3 separate regions of the Homo sapiens genome follow, and regions 2 and 3 are each linked to region 1. The links come from fine-mapping of genetic effects on gene expression. A gene starts in region 1. Each other region holds a variant in brackets. All regions are shown on one strand. Distances are from middle to middle. Region 1 holds the start of COL27A1 (collagen type XXVII alpha 1 chain). Region 2 overlaps COL27A1 (collagen type XXVII alpha 1 chain). Region 3 has its middle 19 kb from the start of KIF12.

Evidence for each region.
Region 2: its variant is fine-mapped to the expression of COL27A1 in sun-exposed skin (GTEx, PIP 0.99). The same link has a PIP of 0.9 or more in esophagus mucosa.
Region 3: its variant is fine-mapped to the expression of COL27A1 in tibial nerve (GTEx, PIP above 0.99).

What each region holds. Positions count from the first base shown.
Region 1 is chr9:114,152,240-114,160,414 of GRCh38, forward strand. It overlaps COL27A1 (collagen type XXVII alpha 1 chain), which reads left to right and starts at 3,298. Exons shown (of 61, transcript NM_032888.4): 1 at 3,298-3,773. The coding sequence starts at 3,712. It overlaps LOC105376225 (a long non-coding RNA gene), which reads right to left and starts at 2,029. Exons shown (of 5, transcript XR_930256.3): 1 at 856-2,029; 2 at 601-758; 3 at 354-448. RefSeq lists an enhancer at 1,105-1,626 and silencers at 3,163-3,282, 4,170-4,464.
Region 2 is chr9:114,173,598-114,181,772 of GRCh38, forward strand. COL27A1 (collagen type XXVII alpha 1 chain) reads left to right here. Exons shown (of 61, transcript NM_032888.4): 4 at 4,694-4,747. Among named protein-coding and RNA genes, the nearest start is that of COL27A1, 22 kb to the left of the region's middle. The variant G/A (reference allele first, on the strand shown) is at 3,743.
Region 3 is chr9:114,113,883-114,122,057 of GRCh38, forward strand. No RefSeq gene overlaps it. Among named protein-coding and RNA genes, the nearest start is that of KIF12, 19 kb to the left of the region's middle. RefSeq lists enhancers at 1-27, 5,787-6,081. The variant G/A (reference allele first, on the strand shown) is at 3,843.

The DNA of each region.
Region 1 (8,175 bases):
TCCCTTGCCTGGAAATGGCTTTGTGGACAGTGAGTCGTGTGGTATCACCCACACAATACAGTGGGGAGAACTGGACAGTTTCCCCAGTTTCTCACTGGGCCCCACCGCCTCAATCCTCCTTCAAAACCTGCCTGAAATCCAACTCTGTCCTCTTGGTCTTTTTGTGACTCTTTCACCGGAGATGTCCTTCTCCTCTGTGGCTGCACATTTATCCAACACACCCTTTAAGATCCAAATGCCACCTCCTCCTGGGGGCCTTCCTCGGTTTCTTTCCATCCCTTAATCAGCTTCACAATTCAATTGATCTGCATCTCTTTGGTGGCATTTATCACATTCTCCTTATATTATCTTACCTTTATGCAGTTGCAGGGGGTTCTCCATGACATAGTGATGTCTGATGTCTCCCATCCAGACTCTCTTCCCTACCCCAAGTTGCTGTGCGTGTCTCCTGTCCACATTACAAATGCGTGCATGACCAGAAGGCAGGACCATATGGAAATTTTTGTCCCTGCCCCCACAGTGGCAGACCCTTTTCCCCCAGAGTCTTGTACAGGGGTTTGCATACTGTAGGAGTTAAAACAAATAACTTATTTAAATTACCAACGGTTTGAGCATCTATTGTATCCCAGGCTCCATGTGTCAGGCTGGGTGTGGGGACACAGAGATGGATCTGACAATGACAGCGCCATGTGATGTGTGCTGCAATCCCGGTGTAGGGCAGAGCAGCTCACCAGAGTCAGGTGAGCTCTGGCCTGCACCTAGAAGAATAACCAGGTTGTGAACAGGCAGAAAAGGGGCAGAGGGAGAACCTGGGAGGAAACAGTATGGAGAAAGCATCGAAGTAGTCAAGCTTACCTGAGCCTGGGTGCAGGTATCAGAGAGACTGGAGCTCAGGAGGCCGGATCTGAAGCTGGGGAGGCTGCTGAGGATCTGCACAGAACCCCTTAAAGCCTAAGATTTGGATCCTTATGACAAGATGCAGAAGTTTGGAGTTAGGTTACCTGGGTTCAAATCCCACCTCTACCACCTACCCGTTTATGTCAGCTTTCCCATCTGTAAATGGAGAGAAAAAAGCAGGCCTCCCTTAAACCCCAGCACTGTGTGGGTCAGGGTCTGGACTAGGGTGTGGCACATGCAGAGATGCAGCATACCAGGAGATGCCAAGAAAACTCAGCAACGGAGGTAAATTGCCCAAAGCAGTGCCCCAAACCCCTAAGTAATCAAAATAATATTTTAATTTTTTACTTTTAAAATATTTTTAAAAGTATCAAAATTAATGCAAAACCCCACAATGAACAAAATATCTAAAATGTAAATAAAGACAGGGTCTGCATGGTACCAAGTATGCAACTAAAAAAACATCAGTTATGATTGAAGAGGGAGTTCTCAACCTTAGGGGGCCGTGGACTTCTGAAAACCGGAGGAAAGCCCACGGCCCCTCTCCCCTGAAGAATGCACAAACATGCTCAATTTGTGCACAGTTTGGGGGTGTTCCTGCACTCCCTGGGGTTCGTGCACATGGAAGTTAAGAACTCTGGTTCAACATTGGGGGTGCGGGGGTGGCGGGGGTGGTTCCACGCGCCGGCCAGCAGCCTGCCAGTTCCCCAGTCCCGCGACTGGCCTCCCTCCTGGCAGCCATGGGTGCTCTGCCCTCTGCAGGAAGCAGCGCACAGCTATGCAGCTCCCCCAACCCCCCTACCTCCCCTCTCTCGGCTTGGGACTTTTCCTAAAGTTTGTTGAAACCAGACACCTTGCTCGACCGAGCCCGCGTGCAGCCAGGGTTTAAAAGGCCGCCTTCAGCGCCCCCTCCCCGCCCCCAGCGGAGACTTCAAAAGGCCCGGCGGGCGCCGCCGCCCCAGCACCTATGAGCCGCCCCCAGCTCTCGGAGCCCGCGCCGGAGCCCGTGGACGCAGAGCTGCCGAAGTTCGAGCGCAGGCGGACCGGGTCGGCGGCGCAGTCCCGCGCGCCCATGCCCCTCCCGGTGCCGCTGCGCTCCGCGCGCCCGCGCCCCGTTTAGGGAAGGGGACCTCGCCCCCCGCCCCCGCGCCCACGGCTGCGGGGACCCATGAATACAAATGCCGTTAGGCGCCGGAGGAAGGACCGACCGGCCAGCCTCGCACGTAGGGACCCAGTAAGTGCTTGGGGGCTCCTGGAGCGGTGCGAAGTGTTATATGCCTGTGTGTGCGCGCGCCTAAAGGTGTGCGCGTATGGGGAGGTGGGTACACGCGTGAGGAGTGAATGCGTGTGTGCACATGTGCGGTGGGCACTCTCGGAGAACTGTGTGCAAGTGAGGGTGTGCGCGCGTGTGTCCACCCGGGGTGTGTACATGTGTGGGGGCGATATGGCCAGGATAGCGTGCATTTGTGCCTGTGTAAGCATCCGTGTGCATGCTTCTGCGAGTGTAGAGTATCAGCGTGCGCCTGAGCCCAGATATCTGAGGATGCGTTTCGTGTGAACCTAGGAAGGGTGCGTGGCTGTCCCAGAATGGGACCGTGTGTGAGCGTGTGTCTGAGTTTGGGGAAAGGGTGGATACGTGTGGGAGTGTGTGTGTGCACCGGTGAATAAGTGTAACTTTGCTCGTGAACGAGTGGCAAGAGGTGGTAGAGGCGGAGGGAGCTGTGGTCCCAGGGCTGGACTGGAGTTTTGGGTGTGAGAATTTGCCCGGGGGCCAAGGTGTGCAGCTCTTAGCTCCCGGATGGGATCCGAGGGAGTTTTTGTCGATTCTGGGGAGGTGCGTGGTTAGTGGTGGTGGTGGGGTGCGGTTAGATTCCAATTGCTGACAGAAGGGAGAGAGAGGGTGGCAAACCCTTAACAAGCCCACCCTATATGTTCTCCAGGGCGCTCCGAGTCTGGGAGCGCAAACTTTTGGTGGGCGGTGGGGATCACGATACTGGTTGTCGTGGGCGTCTGGACACCAAGTTCTGGTCCTAGCTCCGTCCCTGAAACTGTGGGTTTCTTCCAGGAGTAGAATTTGGCCCTTCTCCCCTACCCCAACCCCCCATTGGAGGACCCCCAGCCTCACCAGTCAGAAGTTCCTAATCTCAGAACGGTGATCAAATCACCGTGAAGCCCTGGGCAGCCCCTTCCTCTCTGTGAATCTGTTTCCCCATCTATACAAGGAGGAGGGGGGCGGGTGTCCCATCGGGGCTGTAGTGGGCCAGCTGAGGCTGTACCCTTGGCTCCGGCCGGCAGGGGGCAGCAGGGGGCAGCAGAGGGCGGCCGGGAGCGGGGAGGAGGGAAGGTGGAGAGCCACCGCGGGCCGAGACTTTAAATCGCCTTCATTTCCCCCAAATCCTTCCTTTTCCTCTCCTCCCCCAGGCCGGCGGGGAGGCAGCTTCCACCGCCCTCCGCGCGCCCTCACCCGGCCTTGCTCTGCCTCCGGGGACCGCCAGCAGCCCGCCTCCAAAAGTTTGATCATCTCTCTCTCTCTTTTTCTTGCTTCTTCTTCCTTTTTGGTGGAAGCAGAAAAGGACCGAGGCAGGGGCGAGCGCGGCGCCCGGACTCCTGGGACCATGGGCCTGGCGCGGGCGCCCGCGGGGCCCCAGCCGCGCTGCCTGCCTGCTCGGGCGCCCCTGGGCGCGGGGCTGCGCTGGGGGCGCGGGGGCCGCGCGCTCTAAGCCGGCCTGGCGCGGCGGGGCGGGGGGCTGGCGGCCCCATGGGGCGCGCCCACACTTGCCCCCCGGGCTCGGGAGCATGAAGTAGGGGCCTGCCATGGGAGCGGGATCGGCGCGGGGGGCCCGAGGCACAGCGGCGGCGGCGGCGGCGCGCGGGGGGTGAGTACGAACTCGGGGACGCCCCCTCCCTAGCTTCCTGCTGCTCCAATCTCGGGGAGGGCCGGGGTTCCCCGCCATGCGGTCGCTTCCAGCGGAACGTCAGCTTCCTGCCCCTTCCTGCGCCCCCGCGAGGCGGGACGCCAAGGGTTAATAGGGGCTGCGCCCCCGGCCGGGCGAGAGTTGGCGAACGCTGCCCGCCCTGCCGCGCCTGGCCCGGCTGCCCGATCCCGTTGGGGCGGGGGCAGAGCCAGCCCGGGGGTCGGGGGTGGGGGTGGGTGGTGGCGCCTGGAGCGGCCGGCGGGGTGCGGAGGGGGGCTTTTTGGATGCTTGGGGGAGGAGGGGGGTCTCCGTTTGGGGCCGTCTCGGTGTGTTCCGGTGTCTCAGTGTCTGCAGGTCCCAAGCCTGTACGTCTCCGTTTCTATCTGTTCTTGTGAAATTGTCCGCAAGTTTCTAGGTCACCAGGTCTCGGGTTCTGCTCCTGTCTCCGTGTCTGTGTGGCTCTGCACGTCCCCGCGTTTCTGGAAATCTCCGCGTGTTTGTGTTAGTCGGCCTGGGTCTGTGTGTCTGTGTTTCCTGCTTCTCGGTTCCTGTCCCTTTCACGTGTGTAAGAGAGAAAAAGTGAGAGCCAGCATGTCAGAGCAGAAAGGGCCCTGGGCGATCACTGTGCGGAACCCCTCAGTGTACAGATCGGGAGACAGGGCCGGAGAGGGGCAGGGACTCTCCCAGGAGCGGCTGCGCGGAGCTGGGGCCCAGAGGCTGGGATTCCCAGCGTGTGGAGTAGGAGTTGTAAGAGAGAGTGAGCCTGTGCTGGAGCCGGCGCAGCGTGTGGGTGTGTGTGGGAGCCAGCAGCATGCAAGCAGCCCGTTGGGGCCTGTGGACGGCGCTCCTCTCTTTCCATCCTGCCCCCAGGACACCAGGACACTCCCCAGAGGCTGTTAGGGCTGTAGCTGGGCCCTGCCCCCTTTGAGCTGGAGTCCGCGGGATGACACCCCCTCCTTTCTTCCCCATGTCTTGGAAAAAGCTGGCTGTTTGCGATTCCCCCGCCCCGCACCCCCTCACCACAACACACACACACACACACACACACACACATACGCGCGCGCGGCACCAGTGAGCACACTGCTGACTCATTTTCTCCAGAAGACCCTGCGCCAGGGTAGATGCCAGCAGTTGGGCAGAAAAGTGGTGCCAGGCGAGCACCCCATGGTGGGGCTCCAGCTGTGGGCAAGTGGGCAGTCAACACTGCTCGGAGGCCCAGTCTCTGCCTTCTCCTGCCTCCCTGCCTCCCTTGACATCACGTTGTCCTGCATCATGTGCGCTCTGGCGCCAGCATACCTCTGCTCTCCAGCATGCCTCTGCTCTCCAGCATGCCTCTGCTCCTGGACCCTTCTGGCCGGACCAAACTCCATGTCATGTCTATGGACACATCCCTGGCCTCTGCCTCCTTCTGTTTCCTCCCTGTACTCAGAACATTCTCCCTCTCCTGTGCCTCCACCAGCGCTGCGGACCCTCAGCAGCCAGCAGCCTCCTGGTGGTCTCTGTCCCTTTCTGAGCACACTCCCCTGTTCTTTGTTGGCATTTTCTCTCCTCCATCTCTGTCCAGGGACCCTCTTGATACCCACATGCCTGGCTTGGCTACGCAGAGTAACATATCCACTGGTGGTAGGGGACAGCAGTGAGACACTCACAGAATCATGTTGGTGGGAGGCAGGCGGCACCACAGGAGGGCCATGAGGCTTGCCATCAGGCAGGCTCGAGTTTGAATCCTAACTCTGCTGTGCCAGCTTGGGTGAGCCACTCTGCTGCTTGTTTTTCTCTTCCACAAAACCGGCACCTTATTCCTAGCTGGCTGGGTTTTGTGAAGATGAACAGGACCATGCTTGTAAAGGGCTTAGAACAGGGCCTGGCATGTAATAAGTGCTCAGTAAACGGCAGCTGGTATTTGTATTATTCCCTTCATGTTGAATGGGTGTGTGAGTCAATGGGAAAGTTCTGGGCTGCATCCTCTCCAGACGATGACCTGTCTGTGTTCCCATGGAGGACGTGGAAGCTGTGAAGAAAGCCCAGGCATAGCCGTCTGGGCACAGGGGGTCTGGCCAGTCCATGGAGGCAGGTGGGACAGGTCCACCCCACTTGATGAGCTGTAGTTCCAGCTAGCTCCCTTTTCAGCTTTTACCCCATGCGTGAACAGCCAAGCCTAGTGTCCACAGGGCCACTTTCCCTGTGTGTTTCTGTGGCCTGGGTCTCAGCTCAGAGCCCTCAGTGACTGTTGAAGCTGGTGTGGGTTTCTAAGATCCTGTGTGTTTCCAGGTAATAAGGATGGAAGAAAACTATCCAAGCAGTCTGCCGGTTCTGGCAGTGTGGTTACCCAGGAGTAGCCCCATTTGGTGCACTGGCAGAGGGCCTTTTGCAAGGGCATAGAAACACCTGGGTTTCCTCTTTGGAGGGCTGTGTGGCCAGACGATGTTTCCATGTGATGTTTCCTCGCGGCTCCCGTTTCGGCTGCCTCCTGGCCTCCCTGGCCTCTGTGCTCTGGTCTTCCTGACATTCTGGAGCCCTGGGTTTGCAGAGACAAGGCCCACAAGACAAGTGGTGAAAACAGAAGTCTGGAAGAACAAAGCCCTGAGCCAGCACAGGCACTAACCATGATTAGCAGTAGCCTAAACAGGATTGGAACGGGAGCAAAAGAATCGGCAGGGCCTCCCTCTGAGAGCCAACTTTCCAGGCCTGGAGCTGACTTAGATGGCTCGTTGGCTCCCTGGGTTGCATCTCTGTTCCTGCTGGTGAAGGCTGGGGCTCGGGTCTCTGGCAAGTAGGAAGTCCCTGCAAGTCTCCAATTTCTGCTCCATGGAGACAAGTCAAATGAAAAGGACTATCTGTTAAGTCATAGACTTGAAGCACTGTGTGACTTCGGGCAAGTAACTTGCCCTCTCTGGGCCTCAGTTACGCATCTTTTCAAAGAAGGGAGAGAGAGGACTAGAATCTGACCCCTAGATGATCTTAAATGGCCTTCTTCCACTCTGACATGCTCTATACTTGGGAAGTTTATGGGTCAAGTGCACACAGAATCCATTTCCAAGAGGGTCAGCTGCATTTGTCAGGGAGAATGAATGGAGGTTGAATACTTCTGTAATAGGCCTTCAGGGCTGAAGTCCTCAAGTTGGAAGCCATGGTGTTAGGAAGCTTAATTGAAGAGAAGATTCTGATTCCATGTCTCCTGTGGACTTCTTCTTCCTGATTTTCAGAGATTACAAGGATTTGCCCTCTAATTCTCTGCAGAGTAGTCATTTTGGTATAGCTGTAGCCAGGGAAACTGACCGAGAAGGACATGTGTCGTTTTTGTACCTTCTCTTCCCCACCTCGCCTTTCTTTATCAGTTTGGGAAACTTCCTAGGAAGTTTGGTATGTGACATAATCCAATGAAGGACTCAAGGAGTGAGGGCAGGTGCCAGACAAGGGCCAGGAAGAGAGGGGGCTGGAAGGAGATGGAACAGAAATAAATGGGATCGCAGGAACACAGGAAGGCAAGGGGTAGTCTCCTCTGAGGAGGCATTCATGGAAAAAATGATTCTAAATTTGGGGACTGCTGAATGACAGAAAGTACAGTCAACTTCTTTATTGCAGGATTTCTCCGAGCCTTTGATATACAGTTGTGCTTTCCGGATTGTCAAGACTGGGATGCAGGGTACAGCTCTTCCCTAATGTATCTGGCCAATTTCCTAGAAAGCATGTCCCTGGTGGGTGTGGGAAATACTACTGAAGAATTATGAGCCCAGACGTTGCCCAGGATGGAAGTACCTGCCTTCCCTGAGCCTTGGTATTCTCCGTTTGTGTAATTAAACAAAGCTGCCTTTTATTTCTCTCCAGGGCTCATGCTATTGCCATTTGCTTCAAGTAAGCAAGTCATGCCAGAAAGGTTGGCCCTGCCCTTCTCCCCAGGCAACCCCAGGGCAGCTTGACACTTTGACCTTTAGTCGTTGCCCATGGTGAGCTGGGGGCCTGGCCCCATGAAAAGGCATTCTCACAACAGTGGCAGCAGATTGGAGAGGATGAAGAGGAAGGACCAAGGATTATCTTGGAGCAATTCTGGAAAAAGTCAGAGTAGGGGAATTAAGGCTTTGGGAAGACACTTTTTAAAGTCTATTTTTTTTTTTTTTTTTGAGGCAGAGTCTCGCTCTGTCGCCCAGGCTGGAGTGCAGTGGCATGAACTTGGCTCACTGCAAGCTCCGCCTCCTGGGTTCACGCCATTCTCCTGCCTCAGCCTCCCAGGTAGCTGGGACTACAGGCGCCCGCCACCACGCCTGGCTAATTTTTTTGTATTTTTGGTAGAGATGGGGTTTCGCTGTGTTAGCCAGGATGGTCTTGATCTCCTGACCTCATGATCCGCCTGCCTCGGCCTCCC
Region 2 (8,175 bases), 21 kb after region 1:
GCAAATCACTTAACCTCTCTAAGCCTCAGTTTCTGCCTCTATAAAATGGGGATACGGTGCCACCTACCTTTCCAGGGTCGTTACATGGATTCAGTGAGATGCGGGGGTCGGGGGGAGGGGAGTAAAGCACATATGAAACCTGGGTCCTGGTAGATTGTCATGGCTGTGATTGTGGACTGATGGTGGGTGTTGAGGTGGGGACTTTGGTGCACTGAGAGAACTGGGAGGGTCTGGACATAGTCTCACATTTGCTTGGAGAACTGTGCTATGAAAATACTAACCTGGGGTTAGTCGGTGGAGCAGGGACAGCAGGGAGCCTGAATGGATAAGAGTGTCATGACACATGTCAGCTAGACAGCGGGGGTTTGGGGGAGGACTGCCCCCATTTTTTTTTTTTTGAGACAGAGTCTTGCTCTGTTGCCCAGGCTAGAGTATAGTGGTGCGATCTCAGCTCACTGCAACCTCCGCCTCCTGGGTTCAAGCAATTCTCCTGCCTCAGCCTCCTAAGTACCTGGGATTACAGGCATGTGCCACCATGCCTGGCTAATTTTTTGTATTTTTAGTAGAGACAAGGCTTCACTATGTTAGCCAGGATGGTCTCGATCTCCTGACCTCCAGGCAGGGCCCAGACTCACTGGGGAGAGTTAAAGGAACAGACTATTTACGGAGGGGTGGACAGCATCAAGGGAACCAGCAGAGGCAGGTGAAACACAAGGGGCCTGGAAACTGCAGGAAATTGTTACCACACCCAGACCAGAAGGTCCCAGGGAAAGATGTTCCCAGAACCCAATAAGAGTTAAAACCTTGAGCAGGGGTCTCCTCACAGAAGCAGGGGCCATGGGCGAATACAGCTGCAGCCAAATTATAGCACAGCAGAGAGGGCACAGGGAGAGAAATATACCCTGTCCTCCCTTCTGTGCACTCTCTTCCTGGGGTCTCCCATTGGCCAAACCCAGCTGGAAGCCAGAGGTCAAGGAAGGCCGGGGTATAATCTGTAGAAGTCAGCTTCCCAGGGCACGGCACAGATCTGGGGAGTAAATGGAGAAGAACCAGCATGCATATGCCATCTCAGAATATGGGTATTACATTCCCATTTCACAGCTGGACAAACTAAGGCCCGGAGGCCCAGGGAGATTAAGTAACTTGCTCAAGGTCATACAGAGCTGTACTGATGCCAAGAAGCTCTGTTCCAGCAGGTCCTTCCCAGGACAGAGGCTAGGGAAGTCTGGGTGCCCTGTGTGAATTCTTAGGAATAATCATGAGCTCAGATGGTCAGAGATGGGAGAGCCCTTTGAGGCCCCCTATCTACCCCCAACAGGTTACAGACACAGAGTCGAGGCCTAGAGATCAAAAGGACATTGCTCAGGGTCACATGGTAGGTAGCAGCACACCTAGGATCGGACTTTGGTCTCCTAAACCCCAGGCTTGTAAAACCTCTCATTGCTTGGCAGGCAGAGGCTCTTCCAGCTGGACACAACGGTGGACTTGTTCCGTAGGATGGGGTTCCCCTAGATCTGGCTGTCAGAGGCCAGGACCCTTGGGGGAAGCCCCGAGGGGTCTGCTTGGTTGTTTCCATGGCTCTGTTTGCGTACGCCTGGAGCCCAGGCCTCCTCCACCTCCCCCAGGCAGGCCTGAGCCCCCGCTCTGCTCCCCCTCAGCTCCAGGCCCTCTCAGAGGCCCCGTTGTTTGCAACGCAAAGTGGAAAATCCCACCCCGGCCTCGTGAATCATCCCAGAGTCACCCGCTCAGGCTTCAGGCCCTGGAAAGAAATGGCAGCGTTTTTCCACTGCGGAGAGAACAGGCAGGGTCTCGGATCAGGGGAGAGGGGCCAGGGGGCACCCGTGCTCGCCACGAGCAAAGTGGGCACTGAGTAGGGGAGGGTCCAGCCCGTGGCTAGCACTGGGCAGCCGGCGGTCCCCACCCAGGTTGAAGGTGGAGTGAAGGGATTGGCCAGGCCCGAAGCTGGGGCCGCCCCGTCAAGGAGTCCGCCTGTGGGCTGACATCACCAGGCTGGACCCTGGGTCCTGAGTGGCACTCAGAGTCTGCTCTGCAGATGTGGTGGATGAGGTCAGACTCTATCCTGGATGCCCCTATTTCTGGGGCAGAAGACATGCCAAGAGGGAGTGTCCAGGCCTCTGCAGCTGCAGCCCCACCAGGGTCCATGAAGGAGCTGCACCCACGGAGCCTGTTCCTCCCCGGAGTCCTGGACAAGCCCTTCACCCTGCTGGGTCTTTGCCTTCTCTGTGAGATGGGAAGAATCTCGCTTTTCCTCTTCACTTGATAATGTAGCAGAGGAAATTACCCCCACCTTGGCTTTCCGCAACTCAGGAAATGCCAGTGCCAGGAAGTTTCCAGGATCTTCATTTCACAGATGTCCAGAGAAGAGAAGGGACTTACTCAAGGCCATATACCTAGTTAGAGTCACACTCAACCAAGATTGTGTGGCAGCTGCCCAGGGTAGGAGAACAGGTCCAGTGGTCCTGGGTTTGAATCCAGGCTCTGCCTCTTGTTAGCTGTGTGGCACTGGGCAAGTCACTTTTCCTCTCTGAACCTCTCTCTGGTTTCTTACCTGTTGAAACGGCATGGTATACCTACAGTATGCTTCGTCTCAGCCCCCTGCTTTTTCTTTAATTCTGGGTCCACCTGGGACAGTTGGGTCAAGGAGGGCCTTCTAAGAAGGGACATCTTTTGCTGTCCCCTAGAAACAGATGTGAAGGAGGATGGCTTAAAATTTTGAGTTGAGGACGTTCCAGAAGCTTGCTTCACAGAAATAACAGCTAACATTTTTTTTGAGCATTAATTGGGTGCCAGACACCAGGATTAGCACTTGTTATAGATTATCTGTCGGCTAGGTGCTATTATTAACCTCATTTTACAGTAATAGAAAAAAGGCTTGGAGCCTGGAAATAGCTTTGCTCAAAGCCACCCAGATAGTAGGTGGGTGGGGGGGGGTGCCCTATGTGAACCCAGGCCCGTGGTGTTACACCATACTCTACTGCCCAGAGACAGCTGGAGAGGAGAAGTGGGTAAGACTGGCACCCAGAGTCCAGAACCCACAAAACCAGACAACCCCTCTACCCACCCCTGGAACTCTGCCGCCAATTTGGCCAGAGGTCTCTGGATGCTCAGAGGTAGCTGGGACTTGCCCGAGGTCACAAAACAGACCCTCCTCCTTCTGCTCAGGGCTCTTGCCCAGTGACCTTGGTACCCATATCTGCCTGTCTGGATCTCTCCTCTGATTTTTATTCATGGACGAGCAAGCACGTGGTGTTCACAGGCCAGAACTGTGAGCCGAGACTGCCCAGCATGAGATCTGGATTAATTACCAGCCAAACCAGACTGGGTTTTCAACACCGATTTTAACTCTGGGCAGGAAATCTGGAATCTCATTGATGGTTATTTGAAACAAATGAATTCCCCAGGCCTCACACATCCTCGAAAGCCTGGCTTCCTTCAAAGGCTGCAGGCACAGTTCTTCACATCAGGCGCTTAGTTAATCCTCATTTACTCCTTCGAGGTAAATGCAGTGGTAGCTATTGGACCCATCTTAACGGGGAGCATCTGAGACTCAGATAAGTGGGAGGAACTGCAGGAAGTGTGCAGCTATTAAGTGGTAAAGCCAGGATTTGAACAAAGATCAGCTCATCCTTCAGTAAGTCTGCTCGGCTGCCTCCCTTCCTGTGTAAAGAGAAAAGAGATGAGGACACACAGATGCTCCTTAAATGCTGAGCTTCAGGGTTAG[G/A]TTTTTCACTTGTGGGAAATGGGGAGCCCTTAAATGTTGTTGAGCAGGGGAGGGCTTTTGGAAGGTGAATGAGGCTGTGTGGAGGAGGACTGCAGAGGGGAGGGAGGAGAGAGTAGAGGCAGGGAGACCACTGAGGGGGCTGCTGCCGGTTCTTGGGGAGTGGTGATGAAGGCTGGACCATGCTGTGGCCATGGGAACAGATAGAAAATTTGAGTGCCAGTTACATACCAGGCACCGTGTTAACATTTATCATCTCTCATGTCATCCTTGGAATCCCATGGGGAGTGTTTTATTGCCTCCGTTTGTATGGGCACAAGCTGGCTAAAGACTTGTGCATTTTGTCAGCGGCAGGCAGGGATCTGAACCCAGGCATGTCTGATTCAAAAACCCATGCCATGCTCTGTGTGCTGTGCTGCCTGTTTGTGGGGCAGAGATACTTGGTGTGACCTTGGCCAAGTCCCTTCTCTGTTCTGATTCTGCAGAGAATTTGGCTGAGCTCTGAGGTTTCTGGCTGTTTTATTTTATCAAACGTTTGGCTGAGCCCTGGGGATAGGCAGATGACTCATATCCCCTTAGTTCCTTTGAGGAGACTGTCATCTGATGGGAGACACAGGCTTCTAAGCAGATAATTCCCCAAGTAAGATAGCGGTCTTTAAAATAGAGGAAAAGAAGGGACTTTGTCCAACTTGGGGAAGGTTTTCTGGAGAAGGTGACACCCTAAGTTAGCTGGGTGATAAATGATGAGGGCGTCAGTGACTGAATAGTAGCTATGAAAGCCCAAAAGCCCCAAAGAGCATGAATTTCTCAGGGCAGGGACCTCAGGGGACTCCTCCTCTTAGCCGCGGACTATCCATGCCCACAGCTGCAGGCGGGATTGTTGAATGACTGCTTGAGCCCATTCTCTGCTGCCAGTGGGCACTGTCTAATGCTGTCTTCTTGTTTTCTCCTCAGGGTCCCCCTGGGCTACCTGGGCTACCTGGAATCCCTGGTGCACGTGGGCCTCGGGTGAGTTATCTCACACTGTCCTTTGGAACTCTTGGTGGCTCTTTGGCCTGCGTCTCACTGCCCCTGAGGTCTCGGGTTTGCTGTGTGTCCTCAGGTTCTTCCCTCCCCCTCTCTGGCACCCATATTTGGCTTTATCCATTTGGAGTGGACTTAGGGCTCTCAAGGGTGCTATATGGACAGATATGGCATGGAACAGCAATGACCTCTTGTAGGTCTCAGTTGTCCATTGGGGATATCACCCTTTGCAGCCTGGGGTGGGGAAGGGGCTCCAGAAGATCACATCCCTTCGGCTGGTGAGCTTCAGTGTTTGGCCAGGAAAACTGCCTTGGGGAATATATGACCCTTGCATCCCTCTTCCTGTTTCTGCAGGGCTCTCCTGGAGTAGGGGTGCGGACATAGGTACCTGGAGGGGCCATGCGGGGAGGAGTTGAGTTCCTCCTGCTGGAGAGAGGCTGGGGGACAGCTTGGCAGGCTGCGGTGGCTGACTGAGCTAGCCCAAGCCCGAGAGGGAAAATAGCTCCTATGTGATGTGCCTGGCACCTTCTTTTATGCTGCCTTATTTGACCTCTCATGCCCACCCCAAGTTCCCATGGGACAGTGAGATCATTCTCATTTTAGAGATGAGGAAACTGAGTAGGAAATGGCAAAACCAGGACTGGAACCCAGGCTCTTACCCATATACTGGAACCCTTGGAGATCCCCTTAGAGGGAAACCTACCTGCTTCCCTTAGAGGGCTGAGACCAACAGCACCCGGCATCTGTGCCCAGGCTGAATCAGCCTTTCCCACGCTGGGTGCCTGGTGAGGCCCTGGCAGAGGTAGCTGCCTGGGGCATATTTTTAGCTCTGAGCCCAGCGAGTGGTTCTGGTTATGCAATTACCCAAGCCCTAGTTCCCTCCAGACCTGGCCCTGTGCTCCCTGGGCCCAGGGCTCTGGAATCTGCCATCTGAAGCGGCATTTCCTCCTGGCTTCAGAGCCTTCATGAAGCACGTGCCCTCTGGGGACCACATAGATATCACAGACGCTGCTAGCCCATGGGACCTTGCAGCCTGGGACCAGGATGAGGCCGTTGACCTAGGCAGCCTACTCCCTTCCCCAACCTCCTGAGCCCCCAAGCCTCTGCGGTTTTGCTCTGGCTGTCCTCCTTTGTAAACTTGTCCTCCATTCATGTCTAAGAGCAAATGCCACCTTTATTTCTGATGACCACTCCCTTCTTGGAACTCCCGCAGTGGTTCCCCTGTCCCCTCTGGATGGCATGGGCCACTTTCTCAAAGCTCTCATTGACCACTAAACTCTGTTTGCTGAGCCACATGTGCAGGATCTCATTCCACCTTCCCAGCCATTCTGAGAAACAGGTTTCAATCTATTCCCATTTTACAGATGAGGAAACTGAGGCTCAGAAAGGTTTAGTTACTTCAGATAAAGTCAAAGAGAGTAAATGGCAGAGCCAGGATTGAACCCAGGCAGTCTGCCTCCAGAGCCTACCATCTTTTTTTTTTTTTTTTTTTTTTTTTTGCCAGAGTCTCGCTGTGTCTCCCAGGCTGGAGTGCAATGGAGCAATCTGGGCTCACTGCAGCCTCCACCTCCCAGGTTCAAGGGATTCTCCTGCCTCAGCCTCCCAAGTAGCTGGGATTACAAGCACACGCCCCCGGGCCCAGCTATTTTTTCGTATTTTTAGTAGACATGGGGTTTCACCATGTTAGCCAGGCTGGTCTCAAACTGCTGACCTCAAGTGATCCACCTGCCTCGGCCTCCCAAAGTGCTGGGATTATGAGTGTGAGCCACTGCGCCTAGCCCAGAGCCTACCATCTTAAGCATCTATTGTGCTTATTTTTCTGAGTATTCACCTGAGCCCCTCCAGAGATAGGCCTCGGTTACCTCTCTCTCCTACGTGATGCCTGGCAGAGCACCCTGCGTGCTGGAGGTGCTGGGCAAATGATTGGTGAAGAGTTCTAATGTAGGAGTCAAGAATATTTCTACCAAGAAGTTGTGGAATCTTAGGCAAGTCCCTTCTGTCCTTCTAGGCTCAGTTTCCCCATCTATAAAGGCTGGGGTCATGGTAAGGCATTTCTAAGTTTCCACCTAGCTCTGGGTGAATGACTCTCCTGACACGCTTCTAGGCTCTTTGCCTGCACGCCACCCCAACTCTCCCTGCCCGCCGTCCCACCATCATCCTGTTTCTAGACTGGAAATTCCATAGATTATAAAATTCCAAAGATAATAGAATGCTGGATTAAACAATCCCAGCTCCTCTCTGCACAGATGGGGGCTCTGGGGCTTAAGGAGGGGCATTCTTACCTGAGGTCGCCCAAAGCTCTCTGTCTTGCCCCTTCCTACCTCCACATATTCCCCCAGCCCATGGAGGGATGTTGGGGAATCCCAGAGCCTCCCCCACCTGGCTTTCTAGGCTGCAGCATTTATAGAATTGGTCTGCTTGGCTTTCAGTCAACTATGTGCCTCGTTTCTCTGCAATACTGGAGAGGGTTGGGGACGGGGGGGCAGGGAAACAGGAAGCCCCCACCTTCAGAAGCTGCAGATGGGGGAGCTGAGTGCTCTGGCCCACCATCTGTGGGGCAGCTGGGGCACGACTGGGGAGAGGCAGCCGCCCTTGACCTTGTGCAGCCTACGCCTGGCTCTGGTGGAACTGGGTGTCAGGAACCCCTCCTTGAACACTCCCTCCCAACCTCTGTCCAATTCCCACTGAGCTTGTGGTTAGACCTGGTTAGACCCCACAAGCCTGGGCTGGGGTGAACATCGGAGGGTGTTCCAGATTCCTTAGAGACTGCTGGGTCCCAGTCACTTACAGAACAGAGGGAGAGACCGAGGCTGGGGATTATGAGGTGGGGCTCAGAATTGGGACTCAGTCTCGATGCTTCCAGGTTCTGTCGCGTGCCAGGAGACAGTGTTTGGTGGACTGCAGGGGAGGGCAGGAGGGCTGATTATTTTGGAAGGAGGGTCACAAGAGGCACTGAGAAACTCCCCAGGCTCAGTGTGCTCTGGACACTGTTCCTTGCCGGTGCATTCGGAGAAGGGGAGGGTCCCAGTTCAGGCATCAAGGAAGAGAGGAAGAGGGAGGTGCCTTGGTTGGAATGTGACAGGCTGCAGCTGGGAAGCTGGCCTCAGAGAGGGAAGAAGAAAGCAGTTCACACACAGTTAGCCCGATGAATCAAGAGGGACGGGGAAGAGGGCAGTGTGCCTAGAGGCTGGTGGGGTTGGGAGGACCACTGGACCCTTGAGGGTGCCTCTCCTCACCTCCTATGCCCCAGATTATTCCTGCTAGACAAAAACCCTCAAGTATTCCCCGGCTCTTAGGGCTCTATTTATATTACTGTGCTGGAAGACTCTAGGCCAGGGCCCTTGCTGGAGAAAGTGGACATAACAGGACCCAGCTGTTATCGGGGAACTTGGATATGGCCTGGGAAAATCCAG
Region 3 (8,175 bases), 38 kb before region 1:
TTGGCACATATGCCCACTTTGGTACTACTACTACTATGACCTCTACTAGTATTGCTGCCACTGTCTTCTCGTAGTCCTTCTAGTCCTTTACTACGACCCTGCCAATGCTTCTACTATTACTGCTGGCACTTCTTACTATGACCACCACAACCAGTACTTCTACTACTATTGCTTCTACTGCCTCTACTGCATCCCCCGACAAATCTCATCTTGAATTGTAATCCCCATGTGTCAAGAGAGGGACCTGGTGGGAGCTGATTGGATAATAGGGGCAGTTCCCCCCACACTCTTCTCCTGATAGTGAGTGAGTTCTCATGAGATTTGATGGTTTTAAAGTGTGGCACTTCCCCTTTGCTCACTCTCCCTCTCTCCTGCCATCTTGTGAAGGTGGTGCTTGCTTCCCTTTCGCCTTCCACATGATTATAAGTATCCGGAGTCCTCCCCAGACATGAGGAACTGTGAGTCAATTAAACCTCTTTTGTTTATAAATTACCCAGTCCCAGGTAGTCTCTTTATAGCAGTATGAAAATGGTCTAAAACATAGTACTTCTTACTCTATTACCACCAGTATTTCTACTGCAGTACTGCCACCAGGATTGCTTCTCTTGTTATTTATACTACTACCACTTTGCTACTACCGTAATGATGACTACATACTATTTGCAGCTACTGCTAATAGCAGCAAACGTTATGAATCACACACAATGGGCCAAAGACTGAGCTAAGCACCCTGTGTCAATTGATACAATTTAAACCATGGCAACAGACATCTGTGGTGTAATATTATTGACAAAAAGAGTCAAACTCTGTAAAATGTTTATTTTATTATTAAAAATTATTATGAAATTGAAAATTATTATTAAAAAGAGATTTATTCTGAGCCAAATAAGAGTGACCATGGCCCATGACACAGCCCTCACTCAGGAGGCCCTGAGAACACGGGCCCAAGGTGGTTGAGTGCAGCTTAGTATTATACATTTTAGGGAGACATGAGACATCAATCAAATACATTTAAGATATACATTGGTTCAGTCTAGAAAGGCGGGACAACTTGAAGCAGAGTGCATGTGGGGGCTCCCAGGTTTATAGGTAGAATAAAAAAATTTCTGATTGGTAATTGGTTAAAAGAGTTATTATCAATAGAAAGGAATGTCTGAGTTATGATAAAAGGTTGTGAAGACCAAAGTTTTATCATGCAGATGAAGCCTCCAGGCAGCAGGCTTCAGAAAGAATACATTGTAAGTGTTCCTTATCAGACTTCAGGTCTGCGTTGATGTTAAATAGGGGTCAGCTTTTCCTGAATCCCAAAAGGGAGGAGGGCTACTGAGGCATGTCTGACCTCTGCTTCCCATTATGGCCTGAACCAGTCTTTCAGGTGAACTTTGGAGTGCCTTGACCCAGAGGAGGGAGTCCAGCTGGTTGGAGGGCAGGGGGCTTAGAATTTTATTTTTGGTTCACAATATCCTCCCTCCTTTATTGATGGGGAAACTGAGCTTTGCAGAGGCTAAGTAACCTGCCCAAATTCATAGAGACAGTAAAAGACTGAACCAAGACCTCAACCAGCCACCTAACGACAGGGACCAAGTCTGAGATCTAGAACCTTTCTCCTTTGTCCTTTGTCTACCTTCAAGAGTATATCCTTGTCTTCTCTTCAGTCCTCTGGAAAGAATTACTTGAAGTCAAAGAAGGAAAGGGGGCCTACCTCTACAGATGTCTAGAATGCTGTGAGCAATGTACATAGTAGGTGTTCAACACATACTGTTTGAATAAATTGGATTCTAATGATAACCTTTTGAGGTAGGAACAAGGATCTTGATGTTGCAGTTGGGGACACTGAGATTTTCAGAAACGCTGTGGTCTAGCTAAGAGGTGAAGTTGGGACCAGATGCTAGAATTCAGTCCTTTCATGACCTCGAATACAAAGTGAACTGTCCGACCCGACCACAAAGTCTTCTGTGTGCATTGTACGTCACGGTTTGCAAAGCTCACACATCTGTTATTTAATTCTCACAACAGCCCTCAGAGGGGGTGATCGGTTCCACTGTAATGATAAGGAAAACCAGATTCAGAATGCTAAGGCAGCTTTGGAAGGGCTCATGGAGAGGCAGCAGCAAATCCAGGATTGAACCAACTCCTCCCTACTAACCCAAGGGTGGGAGCCTCCCAGCGAAGACTCCAAGAAGTCTCTCTTGGGACAGCCCACCGCCACTCCCTGTCCAGCCACCTCAGCCCCTAGGGTGGGCAAGCCCATGGCCCCAAGGGGTGGAGAGAACCGGTTATTTCCAGCCTGGTACTTAAGGGCTGGCCAGGGAGGAGGGAGGAGGGTGTGAGCCGGCTGGCAGGCTCTGTGCTCCCAAGAGGGTCTGGCCTTTGGCTGCTGAGAACTGGGCAGGGGGTCAGGAACTCCTGTCCAAGCCACCCAGGCCAGCTGAAGCTGGGCAGGTGTCCCAGGAGAGGGCAGGCCACTCCCTCCCCAAAAAGGCAGGAGTATGCAGCCAATATGCACACAGGCGGCTCATTCAGCCCCTGCAGCTCCTTGGCCCTGCCCTGGGCCGTGGCCCCCAGGCTGAGGCACTGCCCCTGCTGTTCTCGGGAGATGGAAACAGACAGCAGTTCTGATCAGGACCTGTGGGTCAGTGAAGAGCAAACACATCCTGCTCTGAGCACCGATTGGGTGCCATCCATCCTCTGCAGCTCTGTAAGGTGGAAATTCCCGCCTCCCACGGTTCCTCTCCCACTTGTGTGTGGAATGCGATCACCACGCTGCCTCCCTTTCAAAGCGCCCAGTGTTTCCTAACTCAGGACCTTTGCACATGCTGTCCCTATGCTGGGGGTACCTTTCCTTTGGCTTCTCACGTGACTGGCTCCTTTGTCTTCAGGTCTGACTGTAAAAGGTCACCTTTCAGTGGCATCTTCCCTAGCTCCCCTCACTCATAATTTTCCCCACCTCCCATGCACACACCTTGTCTCTGTCACCCTCCTCTACTTTCTCCTCAGCATTCTTATTTATTTATTTATTTATTTATTTATTTATTTATTTATTGAGATGGAGTCATCTTGCTCTGTCACCAGGCAGGAGTGCAGTGGCGTGATCTCAGCTCACTGAAACCTCCGCTTCCCGGGATCAAGTGATTCTCCTACCTCAGCCTCCCGAGTAGCTGGGATTACAGACACGTGCCACCACGCCCAGCTAATTTTTGTATTTTTAGTAGAGATGGGGTTTCACCATGTTGGCCAGGATGGTCTCGATCTCTTGACCTTGTGATCCCCTCTCCTCGGCCTCCCAAAGTTCTGGGATTACAGGTGTGAGCCATCGCGCCCTGCCCATATTTATTTTTTATTGATTTTTGTTTGTCTCTCTCCCCATAGGAATAAAGAATCTATTTTATGAACTATCAGGTCCCCAAGGTCCAGCAGAGGGCTTGACACATAGAATCAACATTTATTGAATGAATAGATGGAAGGGAAGTGAAGGCTCTTGTCCACCTTGTCCATGTTCTCATTGTTAAAGAAGGCATCACCAACATTGAAACTCGGGTCTGTCCGTCTCTAAAGAGGCCCCCATTTCACCTGTGGGTGTGCTCAGTGAGGACACCATCTTCCCTGCAGTGATTTTTTTTCTCTGCCCCAAAGGCACGTTCTTTATACATGGGGCATGGTGTCTCCTCCAACTTCCCATCACACGTCCTCCCGCCTCTGCTTGCATATCTCCAAAAGACAGGGAGCTCACCCCATCCACTGCAATATTAGAAAGTCCCTTCCAAGACTCTACGACCTTCAGAACAATGGAACGGGCAGTTCTTCACAATGTTCTCAAATGCTGAAGAGGAAGAATTGCTGTC[G/A]TTAGCACAAGGCTGTGGACTTGGACAATACACTTTTCTGTTTATTCATTGATTTTCTGAGCCCCAACCATGGGCCAGGGCTGTGGTGTCGAACTAGAGAGCAAAAGAGCCTTGGTGGCCGCCTTCTCGATGATGTGTCAGGTCCACTGTGGCCTTTGGGCCCTAGAGTGGTGGTGGCAGGGGGGTGATGGAGGAGGCATGTGGAGTGGATCAGATGCTTCTTGAAGTCGATAGTGCACACAAGTCACCCAGGGATCTTACTAGGATGCAAATTCAGGGACAACAAATCTGGGTAGAGGTTCTATGTTTCTCCTAAGCTCTCGGGGGATGGTGATACCACTGGTGCATGGACCACACTTTGAGTAGCAAGGTAGAGACTCAACTGACAAAAGAAGACAGTGAAGCCTAGAGCAAGTCAGGGACTTGCCTCGGGTCACTGGTCAGGCAGCAGGAGCTGAGAAGGGACGGCCTACCTCCGCGGGCCAGGGCTCTGGAATTCGTGGGGCAGGCTGGGCTGAGTATGCCTTTGTGAGGCATGGCATACCTGGACTCACCCGAGCTGCCCGTCCCTGCCCATGAATAGTGGGCCTCTTTCCTTCCTGCATAAGGCTTGGCGGGCGCAAGCCCACGGCCGCCCCCTCCCCTGCACACACACTTACACACACTCACACACCCCTGCCGGCTCAGCTGCCCTCCCTGTTTGGGGAAAGTCAACAAGAGCATTTGAAAAGTCTTTCTGTGTGGAGAATCTGTTTGTATAGGGGGAGGAAACGGAGAGCTGGCCAATAGGTAGAAATATTAATGAAGCTTGTTATAAAGGGCCCATTCACGGCTCTCCGAGTAAATAGGGCTCTTGTCGGGCTGCCACGTTATCTGCCAAGTTCAAGAATGTGGTTTGAAAAAATAGAATTTAAAGGGGTGAGGTGGAGCCTTCAATGGCTGGCCTGCTGGAGCTGGAGCCAACTCCAGGAGGAGCCTGTGCTGTGGGGGGCTGTGGCTGGGGACACTGGAGGTGCTGGGTCTTGTGGTGAAGGCTGCCTGGGAAGAGGGGCTGGTGAGGAGCCGCTGGAGTTCCGACTTAGAGAGAATTCCTGTCCACCGGTGTGGAATGCCCCGTGCCATTCCTTCCTCCCCTTGGTGCCTGGCACAGGGCTTGCAGATCCTCTGCTTAGCCCCCCAACCCAGTCTACCTTAACTCTCCTGCCTGGGGATTTGCCTCTTGGGATGTTGGTGGAGGGGATCTCTATATGGTAGGAGGAGGGCTTTGTAGTAATTCTTAGCCATAATGCTGTGCTATTCCACAAACCTCAGCCATCTTCTCCCACGCCCTTACGAGGTCCTACTTTATACATTCTTACCAGATGCTACATAAGAAAGAGCATAAGAGACTGAGATGTTTGACTCAGAGAAGGAAAGTGACCAGCTCAAGGTCACTCAGCAAGTGTGTAGCAGAACTGGGACTTGCTTCAACCAGTTTCCTGTTGGGTCATTGTTCCCGGCACTGAAGATAGTGCCTGGCCTGAGGGGCTGTCTTGTCATTTCACATGTACAGTGTCTTACTTTTAGCCCTGGACTTAAAGCAACTTATAAGCAAGGACCGTGTCTTATGCTTAGTTTTCCCCTGGCCAGCTGTGTGGTCTTGGACAGGTGACTTTGCCTCTCTGAGCCTCAGCTTCACCATTTGTAAAATGGGGTCATTGAGACCAAGCCCTCCTTTCCAGAAGACTCAGTGAGAGGATGTTGGTGAAGTGCCCAGTGCTATGCCAGGCCCTCGGTGGGTGGCCCAGGAACAGTGGCTGAGGGCACTTCTTTTTCTGTTCCAGCCCACAGTGCAAGGGTAGAGACTCCAGGAAGACTGTCTCCTTTACACTTGGACCCTAGAAGGCTGGTCTGTGCTGAGGGTCATAAGAAGCTGGTAAATTGAGAATCAGGGGTTTCTGCCACCCATGGCATTAGGCGGCAGAGATACATGTGTGTGTGAACTATCACGAGGGTCTGTCAAACAGGCCCTGCAGGAAGCCCAGGCAAGCCCGGGTGACCTTTCATCCTTTCCCCCAGAGAGCTGCACAGAATACACCTCTGTCAGACAAGGGTTAACCTGGGTGGGAGGGAATATTTACACTGGCTTTTCTTTGCAAATAAAAGTTGGTGGCTGGGTGGGGGTGGGGGGGTGGGGAGGGTCGGGGGGTGTCCCATAAAACAAAAAGGAAATAATCTATGCAAAAACTAAATGGAAACGTGTTTTAAAAGACTCTACCAAGAGCTTGCTGAGTGACCCTGAACAGTGGGGACTTAGGGAAAAGTTGACAGCATCCCCTTTAAGAAGAAGTGGTGTAGCATAGGTAGGGCCATGAGCACAGGCTTTGGGGCTCACAGACCGAGGTTAGAATGTGGGCTCTGCTCTTCTCTGGCTATGTGACCTTGAGCAAATCGTGGACCTCTCTGGGCTTCCATTTCTTTGATTTGTACAAGAAAAGAGAAGAGAGGGTTAAAGTATGTGAAGGTCCCTGGCACTTCATGGATGCTCATTAAATGTCAATTTCCTTTCCTTTCTGGGCCTCTTGGCAGGTCGAGGGGAAGTGTCTGACAGGTCTCACCAGCCAGACTGGAGAGAGACACAGCTCTGCAGGTCTCAGTGCCTGCACACCAGCTCAGTAGCCTGATGCTGACTATGCCCCTAGAGCCCTTTACAGTTTGTAAGGCATTCACCTACTTGCCGTTAAAGCCTCCCAAGAATCCCATAAGGTGGTCATGGCAGCATTTACTACCTTATGGTGCTGTGACTGGGAAAGGGTAAGGGACAAGAACCCAGTGCTCTGGGGCGGGGCCCAAGTCTGTCTTCATTCCTTCATTCCTTTAGCAAATATTGATTGAGGACTTGTTATGTCCAGGCACTATGCCAAGCATGGGAGATACATAATGAATAAAAATCGACACAGATGGGTGGTTGATGGATGGGTGGATGGGTGGATGCTGGTCAGATTATGGGTGGGTAGATGGATAGATAGATGGATGATGAATGGATGGGTGAATGGATAGATGAATGGATGATGGGTAGATGGCTGGCTGGCTGGATAGATAGATGATGGATGGATGGGTTGATGGATGGATGGATGATGGATGGTAGATGGATAATGGATAGGTTGATGAATAGATGGGTGGATAGATAGATGGATAGATGGTTAAATGATGGATAGGCAGATAAATAAATGAATGGATGATGGATAGATGGGTAAATGGATGGATGGATGGATGGATGGTGGATGGGTGGCTATGTAGATGAATAAGTGAGCGAAAGAAGGATGACAAGTCCCTTGAGGACAGAGCCCTGGTCTATTCTTTCCACCACTGGGTCCCCAATACTGAGGATGGTGCCTGATACAGAGGGATTAACACTTGCCATATGAGTGTCTTCTTTGGTTGAGTAGACTCAAGAACCAGGCTGCCTGGGAGTCTGAGACCCAACTCTGCAACTTCGTAGCTGTGTGGTCAAGAAGAAGTTACTCAATCTTAAGTGTCCTCAGTTTCCTCATCTACAAAATGAGGTTGACAATACTTTATAGGTTGTTGTGAGGATTAAATGAGTTAATACATGGACATCCCTTAGATCAGAGCTGTGCCTGGTGCACACCAAGTCCCACGTAAGCATTGGCCACATTGATCATTTTTATGGTTTCACATCTGTGCTCCCTCCCGTCTCCTGAAAAAGATAATAAATCCTCTTAAGGCAGGGCTCTGGGCTCTGGGTGCCCTGCCTACTATGCCTCCTAGTAAAAATATGTGTTGACTCTGTGGCTTCAGAGAAAGGAAGATCTTAAATCCAAAGCAGGGGCAAAAAAACTCCAGGGTACACATTCCACTGGGGCCAAGGGCACAGCTGGCCCCTGACTGAGGGAGGCAGGATGGCAGGACAGTCAGAGCCTTGGGCTGGGAGAGGAAAGGTTGCATTTCCATGCTGGCCCTGGCATGGGCCTCCTCCTGGGGCCCAGGCTTCTTTGAGCTTGGGTCTCCGCAGCTCCACATTGACAGAGATAGTCTCCCATGAACCATTCAAGTTACAGACTGAGGAAACACAAATCAGGCTATCTTCGGCTCCTCATCCTCAATTTTCCCTTCTTTGAACAGATTTTTCCGGATCGGAAAAACTGAGCCTTTGCTAGCCTTGGAACACACATGCTCTCTCTCTCCAGGATGAAATGCTGTGTCAGCGTCAGCTAGTGGTTGAGGATGGCACCAGATGGAGCGCTCATTAACGCCCCCGAGCAGCAGCTCAGGGTCCCCCCGGGTCACCTCCCCAGAGTACACAGGCTCAGCTTTCTCTCTGGGGCCGCCG